Regions from separate parts of the Homo sapiens genome. Here regions 2 and 3 are each reported to be linked to region 1. The links are microRNA targets in miRTarBase. Many come from high-throughput screens and were not tested one by one. Region 1 holds a microRNA gene; each other region holds the end of a gene's coding sequence.

The links. Region 1 holds the annotated microRNA hsa-miR-519e-5p (UUCUCCAAAAGGGAGCACUUUC, at 1,529-1,550, opposite strand). A microRNA usually pairs through its seed, bases 2 to 8, with sites in the 3' UTR of a target mRNA and lowers its output. Matches are read on the target gene's strand: a 7mer-m8 pairs with bases 2 to 8, a 7mer-A1 pairs with bases 2 to 7 and ends in A, and an 8mer does both.
Region 2: miRTarBase lists RPS26 as a target of hsa-miR-519e-5p. Seed matches in the 3' UTR shown: 7mer-A1 at 4,385-4,391.
Region 3: miRTarBase lists IL6R as a target of hsa-miR-519e-5p. Seed matches in the 3' UTR shown: 7mer-A1 at 594-600, 7mer-A1 at 3,648-3,654, 7mer-m8 at 3,778-3,784 and 7mer-m8 at 4,151-4,157.

What each region holds. Positions count from the first base shown.
Region 1 is chr19:53,676,433-53,681,502 of GRCh38, reverse strand. It overlaps MIR519E (microRNA 519e), which reads right to left and starts at 1,563; the gene lies at 1,480-1,563. It overlaps MIR515-1 (microRNA 515-1), which reads right to left and starts at 2,500; the gene lies at 2,418-2,500. The region is part of intron 2 of LOC107985342 (a long non-coding RNA gene); the gene reads right to left. RefSeq lists an enhancer at 3,308-3,808.
Region 2 is chr12:56,043,515-56,048,583 of GRCh38, reverse strand. It overlaps RPS26 (ribosomal protein S26), which reads right to left. Exons shown (of 4, transcript NM_001029.5): 4 at 3,887-4,465. The coding sequence ends at 4,430. Among named protein-coding and RNA genes, the nearest start is that of RPS26, 4.1 kb to the right of the region's middle. RefSeq lists enhancers at 1,085-1,379, 1,970-2,563 and a cis regulatory region at 1,106-1,480.
Region 3 is chr1:154,465,115-154,470,183 of GRCh38, forward strand. It overlaps IL6R (interleukin 6 receptor), which reads left to right. Exons shown (of 10, transcript NM_000565.4): 10 at 20-4,336. The coding sequence ends at 266. It also overlaps a transcript of SHE not described here. Among named protein-coding and RNA genes, the nearest start is that of TDRD10, 35 kb to the right of the region's middle. RefSeq lists an enhancer at 1-352.

The sequences.
Region 1 (5,070 bases):
ACACAGTCCCGATGGGAGCATCCAAAATGGAATCTACTATGTTCAAGAATATACACTGTCTCACACACAAACATCCTGCAGGATAGACCACAGGGTATGCTGTATAAGCTCCTCAATAAATACAGAAATACACAAGTATGGGTGGGGCGTGGTGGCTCACACCAATAAACCCAGCACTTAAAGAGGGCAAGGCAGGAGGATCACTTGAGCTCAGGAGTTCGAGCTCAACCAGCATGGGTAATATGGTGAAACCTTATGCACAAAAAATAGAAAAGTTAGCTGGGTGTGGTGGTGCGCACCTGTAGACAAGTACTCAGGAGGCTGAGGTGGCAGGTGGAGGTTGCAGTAAGTCGACATGGCACCACTGCACTCCAGCCTGGGTGATAAAGCTAGACCTTGTCTCAAAACAAAACAAACAAACAAACAAGAAAAACACAGAAAGAAACAAGTAAATAAATACCCAAAGTGATACAAGAGTATTCTCCGTGTGTAGAACAGGGTTTGGTGTACATATGACTACATTATATACATGATAAGACTATATGATTAAATATACATCATATATTGTTGAGACCCTGTCTATGAAAAAAAAAAAAAAGAATATACTGTTTGCTCACATTAAAAATAACTCCTCACCGGGTGCGGTGGCTCATGCCTGTAATCCCAGCAGTTTGGGAGGCCGAGGCAGGTGGATTAGTTGAGGTCAGGAGTTTGAGACCAGCCGGACCAACATGGCAAAACCCCGATTCTACCAAAAGGACAAAAATTAGCCGGGGTGGCGGCATGCACCTGAAATCCCAGCTACTCAGGAGGCTGAGGCAGGAGAATCGCTTGAACCCGGAAGGCGTAGGTTGCAGTGAGCCGAGATCATGCCACTGCACTCCAGCCTGGGCGACAAGAATGAGACTCCATCTCAAACAAACAAACAAACAAACAAACAAAATTCCTACACACAAGTGCTTGCTTTGGCAGCACAAAAAAATACAAATAATAATTAAAAAAAAAAAAAAAAACACCCTGCAGTCCGAGCAGGGTGGCTCATGCCTGTAATCCCACCACTTTGGAAAGCAGAGGCGGGCAGATCACCTGAGGTCAGGAGTTCAAGACTAACCTGGCCAATGTGGTGAAACTCCATCTCTGCTAAAAATACAAAAATTAGCCAGGCGTGGTGGCACGTGCCTATAATACCAGCTACTTGGGAGGCCGAGGTTGCAGTGAGCAGAGAATGTGTCACTGCCTGCCCGCCTGGCCCACATAGTGAGACTCTGTCTCAAGAACAAAAACAACAAAAAAAGTAGGGGGGACCAACTAGCCTAAGAGGTCTAGGTTGGAAGCGCCACCGCACTCCTGCCCGGGCAACAGAAACCCTGTGTTGCAAAAAAACTAAACAAAAACAGAACCCCAACATCATGCAAGTCTGATGATAAGCACGCTCTGCAAATGCGTTACCAAGATCAGCATCAACTTCAACGTGGTTTTTCTCAAACAGTAACACTCTAAAAGGAGGCACTTTGTTTTCTTTCAAACAGAAAGTGCTCCCTTTTGGAGAATGACTGCATGAGATCTTCTCGCTCCAAAACTCTGGGTTTTTGTTGGAATTTTCCTTACCAGGTTAAAATGGACACAAAAATAAAGATGCATTCATTGTCCCTGTTTGCATGTTTTCTGGAATCCAGAACATAAACCCCTAAAAGGACCATCTCCAGTTCCTTGCTTCAAAGGCTCAGCAGGTTAGCCTTGTTCACGAAGGGGCAACCCTCCTGAGTATTGTCTCCAAAGAGAAAAAGCAAAGCCTACCACACATACCTTATATTTAACCAAGAGAATTGGGCTGGATTTCTAGAGAACAGCAATGGATTTTGAGCCATGTGTTCACTTGAGTTCCAGCACAGGGACACACAGTCCCGATGGGAGCAACCAAAATGGAATCTAAGATGATATTTAAGAATATACGTTGTGGGCCAGGCACAGTGGCTCATGCCTGTAATCCCAGCACTTTGCGAGGCCGAGGCAGGTGGATCACCTAAGGTCAGGAGTTCAAGACTAATCTGGCCATCATGATGAAACTCCGTCTCTGCTAAAAATACAAAAATTAGCCAGGCGTGGTGGCATGTGCCTGTAATACCAGCTACTCGGGAGGCAGAGGTTGCAGTGAGCAGAGAACATACCACTGCACTCCAGCCTGGGCCACAGAGAGAGACTGTCTCAAGAGAAAAAAAAGGGGGAGGGGGTGGGGGCAGGGACCAACTGAGCCCAAGAGGTCTAGGTTGGAAGTGTCACCGCACTCCAGCCTGGGCAAGAGACCCTGTGTTGCAAAAAAACTAAACAAAAACAGAACCCCAACATCATGCAAGTCTGATGATAAGCACGCTCTGCAAATGTGTTACCAAGATCAGCATCAACTTCAACGTGGTTTTTCTCAAACAGTAACGCTCCAAAAGAAGGCACTCTGCTTTCAGACAACAGAAAGTGCTTTCTTTTGGAGAATGACTGCATGAGATCTTCTCACTCCAAAACTCTGGGTTTTTTGTTGGAATTTACCTTACCAGATTAAAATGAACACAAAAATAAAGATGCATTCATTGGCCAGGCGCGGTGGCTCACGCCTGGAATCCCAACACTTTGGGAGGCTGGTCAAGAGACCACGACCATCCTGGCCAACATGGTGAAACTCCGTCTCTACTAAAAATACAACCATTTGCCGCCTGTGGTGGCATGTACCTGTAGTCCCAGCTACTCGGGAGGCTGAGGCAGGGGAATTACTTGAACCAGGAGGCAGAAGTTGCAGTGAGCCGAGATCGTGCCACTGCACTCCAGACTGGCAAGAGTAAGACTCCATCTCAAAAAAAAATAAAAATAAAAATAAAAAAGGTGCATTCATTGCCCCTGTTTGCATGTTTTATGGAATCCAGAACATAAACCCCTGAAAGGACCATCTCCAGTTCCTTGCTTCAAAGGCTTAGCAGGTTAGCCTTGTTCATCAAGGGGCAATCCTCCTGAGTTTTGTCCCCAAAGAGAAAAAGCAATGCCTACCACACATACCTTATCTTTAACCAAGAGAATTGGGCTGGATTTCTAAGGATGTTGAGCCAGTGTTCACTTGAGTTCCAGCACAGAAACACACAGTCCTGATGGGAACATCCAAAATGGAATCTAAGATAATGTTTAAGAATATACATTGTTGTACACACAAATACCCTCCAGGACAGACCACAGGCTAGGCCGTAAAAGCTCCTCAGTAAGATTTGACAGAGCTGGGGGGAAAAAAAGAATGTACATTGTCACACACACGAACATTCTTCAGGATAGACCACAGGCTAGGCTGTAAAACCTCAATAATTTTTTTTCTTGGAGACTAAGTTAGGAAAAACAAATGCCCACACCTAAACAACCAATCATTTCTAGTTCAAGTACATCTCAAGTATACTGTTGACCTGAAATAGAAAGTTAACCGGGTTTCCCTGCTCTGGGAAGCCCCCTTTGGTAATTCAGTTAAGGGTCTCCTTTGGAAGGTAATGGGTAGGAACATGGAGATGTCAGCCAAGGGAAGTGACTCTCAGGGATTTCTATGGATTATGCAGATGCCCTGCCAGATCCCAAACTTCCCCAAAAGATCCTAAGTCCAGGCAGGAAGGACCACTGGGGTCCAGAAACCAAATGAAGTGGCCCTGGGCAGGAGTCTCTGTTGTCAGATTCCATGACTAAGACAGCCAGGGAGCAGAGTGAAAATCCCAGGGGCTCTCTCTCCAGGAGACACCTGCTCCATCCAGATCAAACCCAAAATGTCCCCAGCCAGTGATGCCTGGCTCTCCTTTCCCCTCGGCTCATCCTGCCTGCATCGGTGCAGTGCCCTGACGTTCCCAGTCCAGAGGGTGGAGGTTGCAGTGAGGGGAGATCACAGACTGTCAGAGCCTTCCTCTCTCCTTGCCTATGCATGGGTTAATATTCACCTGAAGTCCCAGCTACTAGGGTACGCATAGGAGCACAGCCCAGTTTAGTCTGGGTGACACAGTGAGACCCCCATCTCTAAAATTTAAAAATTAAATCAAATGTGCAATTTTTTGACCTGTTCATGCACACTACATTTCGGCTGCATTTACCCAATAAAAACTCAGAGCCCATGCACTCCACCTCCGTGCGCTTGCTAAGCAGTGCACATCCCATCAGCAAGGGACACTGAGGTCCCCTCCAACTCTACCTCAACCCAAGAGGTGTTCTATAAAGCAGTGCAGGCAGAACTTCCATGGAGTAAGAGGTGTTAAGGGCTGGACGAACAGGCATCGCTCACTGTGGCAACAACAAGAGCTGCTGAACATCCCACCTGTTACTAGAGAGACCCTTCTAGGGTTCTAAAGGACCCTATTTTTGCGAAAATATCTGTGGTTTTGTCTCATGTGACATTTGTCACTGTGATTGAGATGGATTTTCTTTACAATAGTTTATATTAGGCACAGCAAACATTTTAGATCTTGCCAAGCAACCTGTATTCAGAGGCGAGGTTTTGCCTGTTGGAATGGTACATTGGAACCGCTACCCACAGGAAACAGGATAAATGGTCCAGCTGTAGTCAAAAGAACTCACTAGGGTTGTTGGCATTAGTGGTTGAGGGTTGAATCAACTATAAGCTTCTCACAGAGGAAGCAGGTCTATTCTGAGAAATGATGGTAAGCTGTTAGGAAGGAAAAATTTTCAGTGTCAGGGACAAGTAGATTAAAATAAAAAGACAAATGAACAGGAAAAAAAAAATCCCCATTGGGGACTGCAGAACAAGACTGGACAGGCCGGGCGTGGTGGCTCTCGTCTGTAATCCCGGCACTTTGGGAGGCTGAGGTGGGTGGATCACGGAGGTCAGGAGTTCGAGACCAGCCTGACCGACATGGTGAAACCCCATCTCTAGTAAAAACACAAAAATTAGCTGGTCATGGTGGCAGGCGCCTGTCATTCTAGCTACTTGGGAGGCTGAGGTGAGAGAACTCCTTGAACTCAGGAGGCAGAGGTTGCAGTGAGCTGAGATTGCACCATTGCACTCTAGCCTGAGTGACAAGAGCCAAGCTCTGTCTCAAAAAGACT
Region 2 (5,069 bases), not on the chromosome of region 1:
TCTCCTGCCTCAGCCTCCCAAGTAGCTGGGATTATGGGCGCCTGCCACCATGCCTGGCTAATTTATATGTTTTTAGTATACACACATATATACTGTGGGATTCCATTTATGTACGATTCTACAATTCTAGAAATGCAAACTAATCTATAGTTGCAGAAAGCAGGTCAGTGGTTGCCTGGGGACAGTGCTGGGAGTGGCAGGATGGTGAGATTACAAAGGAGCAAGAGGCAACTTCTGGGGTGATCTATATGTTAATTATCTTGAGTATGGTGATGGTTTCATGGGTATACACTTGGGTATATGTCAAAACTTCGGCCAGTCGCAGTGGCTCATGCCTGTAATCCCAGCACTTTGGGAGGCGGAGGCAGGCTGATCATGGGGTCAGGAGTTCAAGACCAGCCTGGACAACATGGTGAAGCCCCGTCTCTACTAAAAATACAAAAATTAGTGGGCCTCGTGGCACATGACTGTAATCCCAGCTACTCGGGAGGCTGAGGCAGTATAATTGTTTGAACTTGGGAAGCGGAGGTTGTAGTGAGCCGAGATGGCGCCATTGCACTCCAGCCTGGGTGACAGAGTGAGAGTCTGTCTCAAAAAAACAAACACAAAACTTTTCAAATTGTACACGTTAAATACCTACAATGTATTATACTTCAATTATCCTCAATAAATCTGCAAAAAAACACTGATTTTTTTTTTAAGACTTACAGAGTAAGACTGGGCCAAAAATAGTAACCACTGCCATTTGTAATGTTGCATTATCTGGCAGGTTCTTTTTTTTCTTTTTTTTTTGAGACGGAGTCTCGCTCTGTCGCCCAGGCTGGAGTGCAGTGGCGTGATCTCGGCTTACTGCAAGCCCCGCCTCCCGGGTTCACACCATTCTCCTGCCTCAGCCTCCCGAGAAGCTGGGACTACAGGCACCCGCCACCACGCCCGGCTAATTTTTTTTTTGTATTTTTTAGTAGAGATGGGGTTTCGCCATGTTAGCCAGGATGGTCTCGATCTCCTGACCTCGTGATCCACCCGCCTCGGACTCCCAAAGTGCTGGGATTACAGGCGTGAGCCACCGCGCCCGGCCTATCTGGCAGGTTCTTTGCAAAGTCCTTTGCAAAGATTATTTCATTTAGTTCTCAAAATGTTCTTGTGAAGTGTTTTTAAATTAATTTTTGGAGGTTTAGATAGAGTAACTTGCCCAAAGCTACACACAAAGCTACCAAAGAGCGAAGGAAGGACTCAAACTTAGGTCTGTCAGACTCCGAAGCTGGGCTCTTAACTCCTGCACGACACTGCCCTCTATGGTCATCCCGAGGTACTAACATCAATGAGGCCTGGTTAACTACTCATGACATCATCTTTAACTGTAGCCTGAGAAAGTCACCCAATTTTCTTTTTCTTTTTTTTTTTTTCCAGAAAGAATTTCGCACTTTCGCCAGGCTGGAGTGCAGTGGCATGATCTTGGCTCACTGCAACCTCCACTTCCAGGTTCAAACTATTCTCCTGCCTCAGCTTCCCAAGTAGCTGGGATTATAGGCGCGTGCCATCACGCCCGGCTAATTTTGTATTTTTTAGTAGAGATGGGGTTTCCCCGTGTTGGTTAGGTTGGTCTCAAACTCCTGACCTTAGGTGACCCACCCGCCTCAGCCTCCCAAAGTGTTGGGATTACAGCCGTGAGCCAGGGCGCCTGATCCGGAAGTCACCTTTCATTCAGAGTGCCTGAATCAGGGTAAATAGTGCATTATACTAGAAAAAAGGATGTGTCTTCAGGACTTCTTTCTGGGGTCCAGGGATGTGGGAGGGAGACTGTATTCCTCTTCCCCACCCCAATCGATCTCCTCCTCTCCTAGTGCTCCCCACACCCCTCCCAATGTTTCTGGGCCTATCTCACCTTGCTGCCTTCCCACACATTCTCATATTTCAGAAATGATGAGTCCAACACTGATCTAAGAGAGTAGAGAGAAAAGGTTAGGAAAATAGCCTTGGGAGGCAGCTGTGAAGTCAGGGTCCCTGGGCCTGTAGATAGTGAGTTGGGACTCCAAGTCACACTGCACACTTGGCTTGTGAGCATGATGTTCACCATGGCTCAGTTGCACCTATTCGTGCAGTCACCACCAGAAGCCCAAGCCTCCAGCTCATTCCACGTCTCTCAGATTCTGGTTCTCATGCAGTCCTTTCTGACCCCATTTGCACTCTTCCCCATCTCCTGAAACCCTTTCACAGCTTTCTGGAACCCAGGATTCATCATCAATAAAATCCTCCAAATGCAACATTCCCTTCACCATCTGCTCTGCAGTATAGTCCACAGACCAGTTGCATCACAATCACTTGGGACACTATTAAAATGCAGATTCCTGGCCAGGCGCGGTGGCTCACGCCTATAATCCCAGCACTTTGGGAGGCTGAGGTGGGCTGATCCCTTGAGATCAGGAGTTCAAGACCAGCCTGGCCAACATGGTGAAACCCTATCTCTACTAAAAATACAAAAATTAGCCGGGCATGGTGGCGGGCACCTGTAATCCCAGCTACTGGTAGGCTGAGGCAGGATAATCACTTGAACCCGGGAGGCGGAGGTTGCAGTGAGCCGAGATCGGGCTACCGCACTCCAGCCTGGGTAAGAGAGAGAGACTCCATCTCAAAAACAACAAAGTTTGGGATTATTAAGACGAAAAACTAAGTCAATTCTTACCAGCTAGGTTCTTGAAAGTAGAATCTATGGAGACAATCAAACAACATACTCTGCGCTTAGAATGCAGAGTATGTTGTGAGTTTGTAAACCCACAGAAGAGGTAGTAGTTAGGACCCACGTGACAGGCTGTGACTCTAGACACTTCAAGAGGAATCTTGGATCAGCTCTGTAAGTACACCCACAATCACGATTTACTATTTGAATCTGGTTCTGTTGAGCAAGCTGGACTTTGGGATCACTCAGATTCAGTACCCATTTTTGCCTTGGACCTCTTAATTTTCTTCTATCACTTCCTGTTTACCCTTGGTGTGATCAGGTTGCAAGGGGCACTGATGTCTTGAGACTCCCTGAAGGATATAGATTATCGCCTACATTCAGTGCTCTTACACACTCCGGGTTTGCCACAGATATTCCAGTACAAACACTGGTGTACTGACAGTCAAGTCAGGTCAGCAGTTCTTGTCTCAGATTTCTGTTGGGGAGTGCATTCCAATTAACAGAACCTCCACATTCTAAAATCTCTACCCGTTCCTTAGGCTGGGTGCAGTGGCTCACACCTATAATCCCAGCACTTTGGGAGGCCGAGGCAGGTGGATCATTTGAGGTCAGGAGTTTGAGACCAGCCTGGCCAACATGGTGAAACCCCATCTCTACCAAAAAAATAAACTAGCTGGTGCATGCTTGTAATCCCAGCTATTTGGGAGGTTGAGGCAGAACTGCTTGAAAGGGGGCAGGGGTGCAGGTGACTCCCAAGTGTCTAAAATCTCCAAGCTATACAGGTGTTACCTTTCACTGGCGAAGTCAGTAACAATTTACTCCCAAATAGATTTTTTTTTTCCTGAATTCTAGGACAAATTAAACTATTGTCATACAGACAAAAATAAGGTAGAGCCTTTCTCTACCTTATATTTCCGGGATGTCTCGTTTCTAGAAATGCCTTTAGTGTCTTTTCCAAGGTAGGAAGATGAGCATCTGAACATTAATCCTTTTATGCTCTGAAGCTATCCAAGTCATACATCCACTATTCAAGTTCCCCCTCCAGGGGTATAAACACCTCAGTTTAGGTCACTTCCCAATGTGCTCCTCACTCAACTAATAGCTTTTCCTCATTCTCCTAATGTTTACCCATTTTTAGGATGCCAACTTAAACTTGATGTGGTTAAATCCAAAATTCAGATGCCTAATCTCCATTTCACACAGCTATGCGAATTGTGAGGCCAACCATACGACCACAATTAAAGTTTAATTTACATAAATAGCTAGGCGAGGTGGCTCAAGCCTGTAATCCCAGCACTTTGGGAGGCCAAGGCTGGTGGATTAACTGAGGTCAGAAGTTCAAGACCAGCCTGGACAACATAGTGAAACCCCATCTCTACCAAAAATACAAAAATTAACCAGGCATGGTGGCAGACACCTGTAATCCCAGCTACTCAAGAAGCTGAGGCAGGAGAATCACTTGAACCCGGGAGACGGAGGTTGCAGTGAGCTGAGATCACGCCACTGCAATTCAGCTTGGGCGACAAAGACTCCGTCTCAAAAAAAAAAAAAAAAAAAAGAAAAAAATTAAATTACATGAATAAGCTTTCTTCCCCATGAAAATAATGTGTGTCACTTCACACTTGGTCTAACACACAAAATCCCCACCTTATCTGGCACAGATACACTTAACATGCAATATTAAGTACAATTTCCATTTTATTTTTCTCCAGAGAATAGCCTGTCTTCAGTCTTTAAGAACTCAGCTCCTTACATGGGCTTTGGTGGGGGACGTGGGGCAGCACCCTGAAAGACAAAGAAACAAAAGAGTAAATTAAAACCCATGGATCCAAGACTCCCTTCCCCCAAAGAACTTGACCACCATCCTCTCACAAACTGATGTATTCAGGCTACAAATGCATGGGAAGCTGATAGAGGTGGAGGGAGAACACTACTCTGCATCCTAAAAACCAATTCTGATTCTAACACTGCTTTGCAGTGTCTCTAAGCATGTTCAGGTGTGGGTCTCACCTGCCTTACAGCTTAACCTGAGGCACAGACCTTAATTTGATACCCCCTGCACCACAGGAGGAAGCAACTTTTTTTTTTTTTTAAGAGACAAGGTCTCACTTTTGCCCTGGCTGGAGCGCAAGTGGTATAATCATAGCTCACTGCAACCTCAAACTCCTGGGCTCAAGTGATCCTCCTGCCTCAGCCTCTCGAGCAGCCAGACTATAGGTTCACACTATCATGCTTGGCTTCCTTCTCAATATTTTTTGAAGAGATGGGGTCTTGAACTGCTGGTTTCTAGCAATCTTCTTGTCCCAGCCTCCCAAAGTGTTGAGGTTACAGGTATAGGACACCCTGACCCTCCAGGATGAAATTTTAACCATCACTCCCCTGGCTTCCA
Region 3 (5,069 bases), not on the chromosome of region 1:
TTTGTGTGTTTGTGTGAAGGTTCAAGAAGACGTGGAAGCTGCGGGCTCTGAAGGAAGGCAAGACAAGCATGCATCCGCCGTACTCTTTGGGGCAGCTGGTCCCGGAGAGGCCTCGACCCACCCCAGTGCTTGTTCCTCTCATCTCCCCACCGGTGTCCCCCAGCAGCCTGGGGTCTGACAATACCTCGAGCCACAACCGACCAGATGCCAGGGACCCACGGAGCCCTTATGACATCAGCAATACAGACTACTTCTTCCCCAGATAGCTGGCTGGGTGGCACCAGCAGCCTGGACCCTGTGGATGATAAAACACAAACGGGCTCAGCAAAAGATGCTTCTCACTGCCATGCCAGCTTATCTCAGGGGTGTGCGGCCTTTGGCTTCACGGAAGAGCCTTGCGGAAGGTTCTACGCCAGGGGAAAATCAGCCTGCTCCAGCTGTTCAGCTGGTTGAGGTTTCAAACCTCCCTTTCCAAATGCCCAGCTTAAAGGGGCTAGAGTGAACTTGGGCCACTGTGAAGAGAACCATATCAAGACTCTTTGGACACTCACACGGACACTCAAAAGCTGGGCAGGTTGGTGGGGGCCTCGGTGTGGAGAAGCGGCTGGCAGCCCACCCCTCAACACCTCTGCACAAGCTGCACCCTCAGGCAGGTGGGATGGATTTCCAGCCAAAGCCTCCTCCAGCCGCCATGCTCCTGGCCCACTGCATCGTTTCATCTTCCAACTCAAACTCTTAAAACCCAAGTGCCTTAGCAAATTCTGTTTTTCTAGGCCTGGGGACGGCTTTTACTTAAACCGCCAAGGCTGGGGGAAGAAGCTCTCTCCTCCCTTTCTTCCCTACAGTTGAAAAACAGCTGAGGGTGAGTGGGTGAATAATACAGTATCTCAGGGCCTGGTCGTTTTCAACAGAATTATAATTAGTTCCTCATTAGCATTTTGCTAAATGTGAATGATGATCCTAGGCATTTGCTGAATACAGAGGCAACTGCATTGGCTTTGGGTTGCAGGACCTCAGGTGAGAAGCAGAGGAAGGAGAGGAGAGGGGCACAGGGTCTCTACCATCCCCTGTAGAGTGGGAGCTGAGTGGGGGATCACAGCCTCTGAAAACCAATGTTCTCTCTTCTCCACCTCCCACAAAGGAGAGCTAGCAGCAGGGAGGGCTTCTGCCATTTCTGAGATCAAAACGGTTTTACTGCAGCTTTGTTTGTTGTCAGCTGAACCTGGGTAACTAGGGAAGATAATATTAAGGAAGACAATGTGAAAAGAAAAATGAGCCTGGCAAGAATGTGTTTAAACTTGGTTTTTAAAAAACTGCTGACTGTTTTCTCTTGAGAGGGTGGAATATCCAATATTCGCTGTGTCAGCATAGAAGTAACTTACTTAGGTGTGGGGGAAGCACCATAACTTTGTTTAGCCCAAAACCAAGTCAAGTGAAAAAGGAGGAAGAGAAAAAATATTTTCCTGCCAGGCATGGTGGCCCACGCACTTCGGGAGGTCGAGGCAGGAGGATCACTTGAGTCCAGAAGTTTGAGATCAGCCTGGGCAATGTGATAAAACCCCATCTCTACAAAAAGCATAAAAATTAGCCAAGTGTGGTAGAGTGTGCCTGAAGTCCCAGATACTTGGGGGGCTGAGGTGGGAGGATCTCTTGAGCCTGGGAGGTCAAGGCTGCAGTGAGCCGAGATTGCACCACTGCACTCCAGCCTGGGTGACAGAGCAAGTGAGACCCTGTCTCAAAAAAAGAAAAAGAAAAAGAAAAAATATTTTCCCTATTAGAGAAGAGATTGTGGTTTCATTCTGTATTTTGTTTTTGTCTTAAAAAGTGGAAAAATAGCCTGCCTCTTCTCTACTCTAGGGAAAAACCAGCGTGTGACTACTCCCCCAGGTGGTTATGGAGAGGGTGTCCGGTCCCTGTCCCAGTGCCGAGAAGGAAGCCTCCCACGACTGCCCGGCAGGGTCCTAGAAATTCCCCACCCTGAAAGCCCTGAGCTTTCTGCTATCAAAGAGGTTTTAAAAAAATCCCATTTAAAAAAAATCCCTTACCTCGGTGCCTTCCTCTTTTTATTTAGTTCCTTGAGTTGATTCAGCTCTGCAAGAATTGAAGCAGGACTAAATGTCTAGTTGTAACACCATGATTAACCACTTCAGCTGACTTTTCTGTCCGAGCTTTGAAAATTCAGTGGTGTTAGTGGTTACCCAGTTAGCTCTCAAGTTATCAGGGTATTCCAGAGTGGGGATATGATTTAAATCAGCCGTGTAACCATGGACCCAATATTTACCAGACCACAAAACTTTTCTAATACTCTACCCTCTTAGAAAAACCACCACCATCACCAGACAGGTGCGAAAGGATGAAAGTGACCATGTTTTGTTTACGGTTTTCCAGGTTTAAGCTGTTACTGTCTTCAGTAAGCCGTGATTTTCATTGCTGGGCTTGTCTGTAGATTTTAGACCCTATTGCTGCTTGAGGCAACTCATCTTAGGTTGGCAAAAAGGCAGGATGGCCGGGCGCGGTGGCTCACGCCTGTAATCCTAGCACTTTGGGAGGCCAAGGTGGGAGGATTGCTTGAGCTCAGGAGTTTGAGACCAACCTGGGTAACATAGTGAGACACCATCTCTATTATGAACAATAACAGTTAAGAAAAAAAAAGGCAGGCAGGCGGTTATGGTGGTTCCCTCCCATCCCACCACATAAAGTTTCTGAGACTTGAGAACAGCAAAATGCTGTTAAAGGGAAATATTAAGAATGAGAATCTGCAGTAAGGGTGATTCTGTGCCCACAGTTCTTCAATTCTTTATACCGTTTTACCCACATGTGGTGTTACCAAAGCCGGGCAGAACCATGCTAGCGGAAGATGTGAAATCCAGATAGCTCATTATTGCCAAGAGCTAGGCAGCTTTGATCTCCAAATTGTTATTGCTTTCATTTTTATTGTAATGGAATTGCTTTGTTTTGTTTTTTTGTTTTTGTATTGAAGAGGGTTGTTTTCCCTTTATTTTTCATAAGCTAATGTAAATGAAGAAAAAATGTCTTCTCTGGGCTGTAGGCCTGGCTCAGCGTACACAGGTATACATCCTAAGCTCTCTATGTTCTCTAATCTGTGGTGACTGAACATGTGTCTCAATGCACGGGGCATTTCTACCTGTGTTTCTGCAGCACCCCCACTGCCTTGAGTCCCCAGCAGTGCTGTTATTTGCCTAACACCTGTAGCCATCTGCCACGCAGCCAGACGTGAAACGCTGAGACAGAGACCATTTAGGTTAAATACGACAGCTTATCCTGCTGGGTGGGGAAAGTAAAAAATATGCTGGTTCAAGGCCTAAAGTAAAATGATCAATAATGTTTGTAGCATTAATGAAATATTTTCAAGAAATGTGTCCAGGGGTAGCACTGGCTATGTTGACGAGGCCTTTGGTAACTCAGAGAGCTCTTGGCCCTGATGGGGACTTGCCCTTACGCTTTCTTTATCAGGCTCTGAGTTCACACGGAGCCTCTGGCACTTCCCTGCTGTCTTGGGAGAAAGGAAACTGGTTGCCGCGGCAGGTTGTGGAATCTGTTGCTGGAACCAGGCTGGAAGCCCACCTGGTAGTGAACAGGGCCCAGTGGGGCAGGCTGGGCATGTTGTGGTCTATGGGTTTGTTTCCTGGAGAATGTTCAGGAATGTCTTCCCAGCTGCTTTGGTGCTGAGCTCTATTATCTCACAGCACGTCCAGAAGGCTAACCCAGGTGGGGAGGATGCTGACACCAGCTCCAGGTGGAGTTGGTGGTCTTAATTTGGAGATGCAGGGGCAACCTGTGACCCTTTGAGGCAAGAGCCCTGCACCCAGCTGTCCCGTGCAGCCGTGGGCAGGGGCTGCACACGGAGGGGCAGGCGGGCCAGTTCAGGGTCCGTGCCAGGCCCTCCTCAGTGCCCTGTGAAGGCCTCCTGTCCTCCGTGCGGCTGGGCACCAGCACCAGGGAGTTTCTATGGCAACCTTAGTGATTATTAAGGAACACTGTCAGTTTTATGAACATATGCTCAAATGAAATTCTACTTTAGGAGGAAAGGATTGGAACAGCATGTCACAAGGCTGTTAATTAACAGAGAGACCTTATTGGATGGAGATCACATCTGTTAAATAGAATACCTCAACTCTACGTTGTTTTCTTGGAGATAAATAATAGTTTCAAGTTTTTGTTTGTTTGTTTTACCTAATTACCTGAAAGCAAATACCAAAGGCTGATGTCTGTATATGGGGCAAAGGGTCAGTATATTTTTCAGTGTTTTTTTTTCTACCAGCTATTTTGCATTTAAAGTGAACATTGTGTTTGGAATAAATACTCTTAAAAAATACCCTTGAAATGTAATTATTGCTTTGGGCATCTGGGTCATCTAAAAAAAAAAGGCTTGCCTGATTCATGAGGAGAAAGGAGTGAGGAAGGGGGGATAATTAAGTAGAACCATTTTTGGGGGGGTATCCCCTTAATGCAGGATTAAAGGACCGCTCAAAAGTAGGTAAGTTCAAGGAAGAAGCAGCAATTTCTCAGAAGGCTTTAATTATGACAGTATTTCCCACACGAGTCCTGGGATTTCTGGAAGGGGTGTGTGGGATTTTGCCACGCTTACATCACATTACCAGGTGGTGGACAGGTGGGGAAGGAAAAGGAAGGGCCATTATTTGTCAGAAGACTGTTTATTGGACCTGGGAGGGGGTGTAACACTATCACAAAGGCCACCCTGAACTCTTGATCATCAGATAGACCAAATCCATCCCCTACTGAAAAGGATCTTAGGTAGGAAAAACTTGGGACACAGCCATCCACATCTTCCAAACAGAGGAAAAGCCATCATGCGGACTCTTTGTGGGTGAGAGCTACTGTGTAAACAGTTCAGGGATGGGGAGGCGAGAACTGCAGGGAAGCCTGGAAATTATGTAACTCCACTCAAAGCTGGACTGAGAGGCGCCGCCTCTGGGCCCCCACCTGGGCAGTCAGAGGAAAGCCACAGGACAGGTGATGGTGGCCGCCATCTCCTTCAGGACACCATGCTCTCCTCTTTGAGGCTGGTCCTTGTCTTGCAGAAAGTG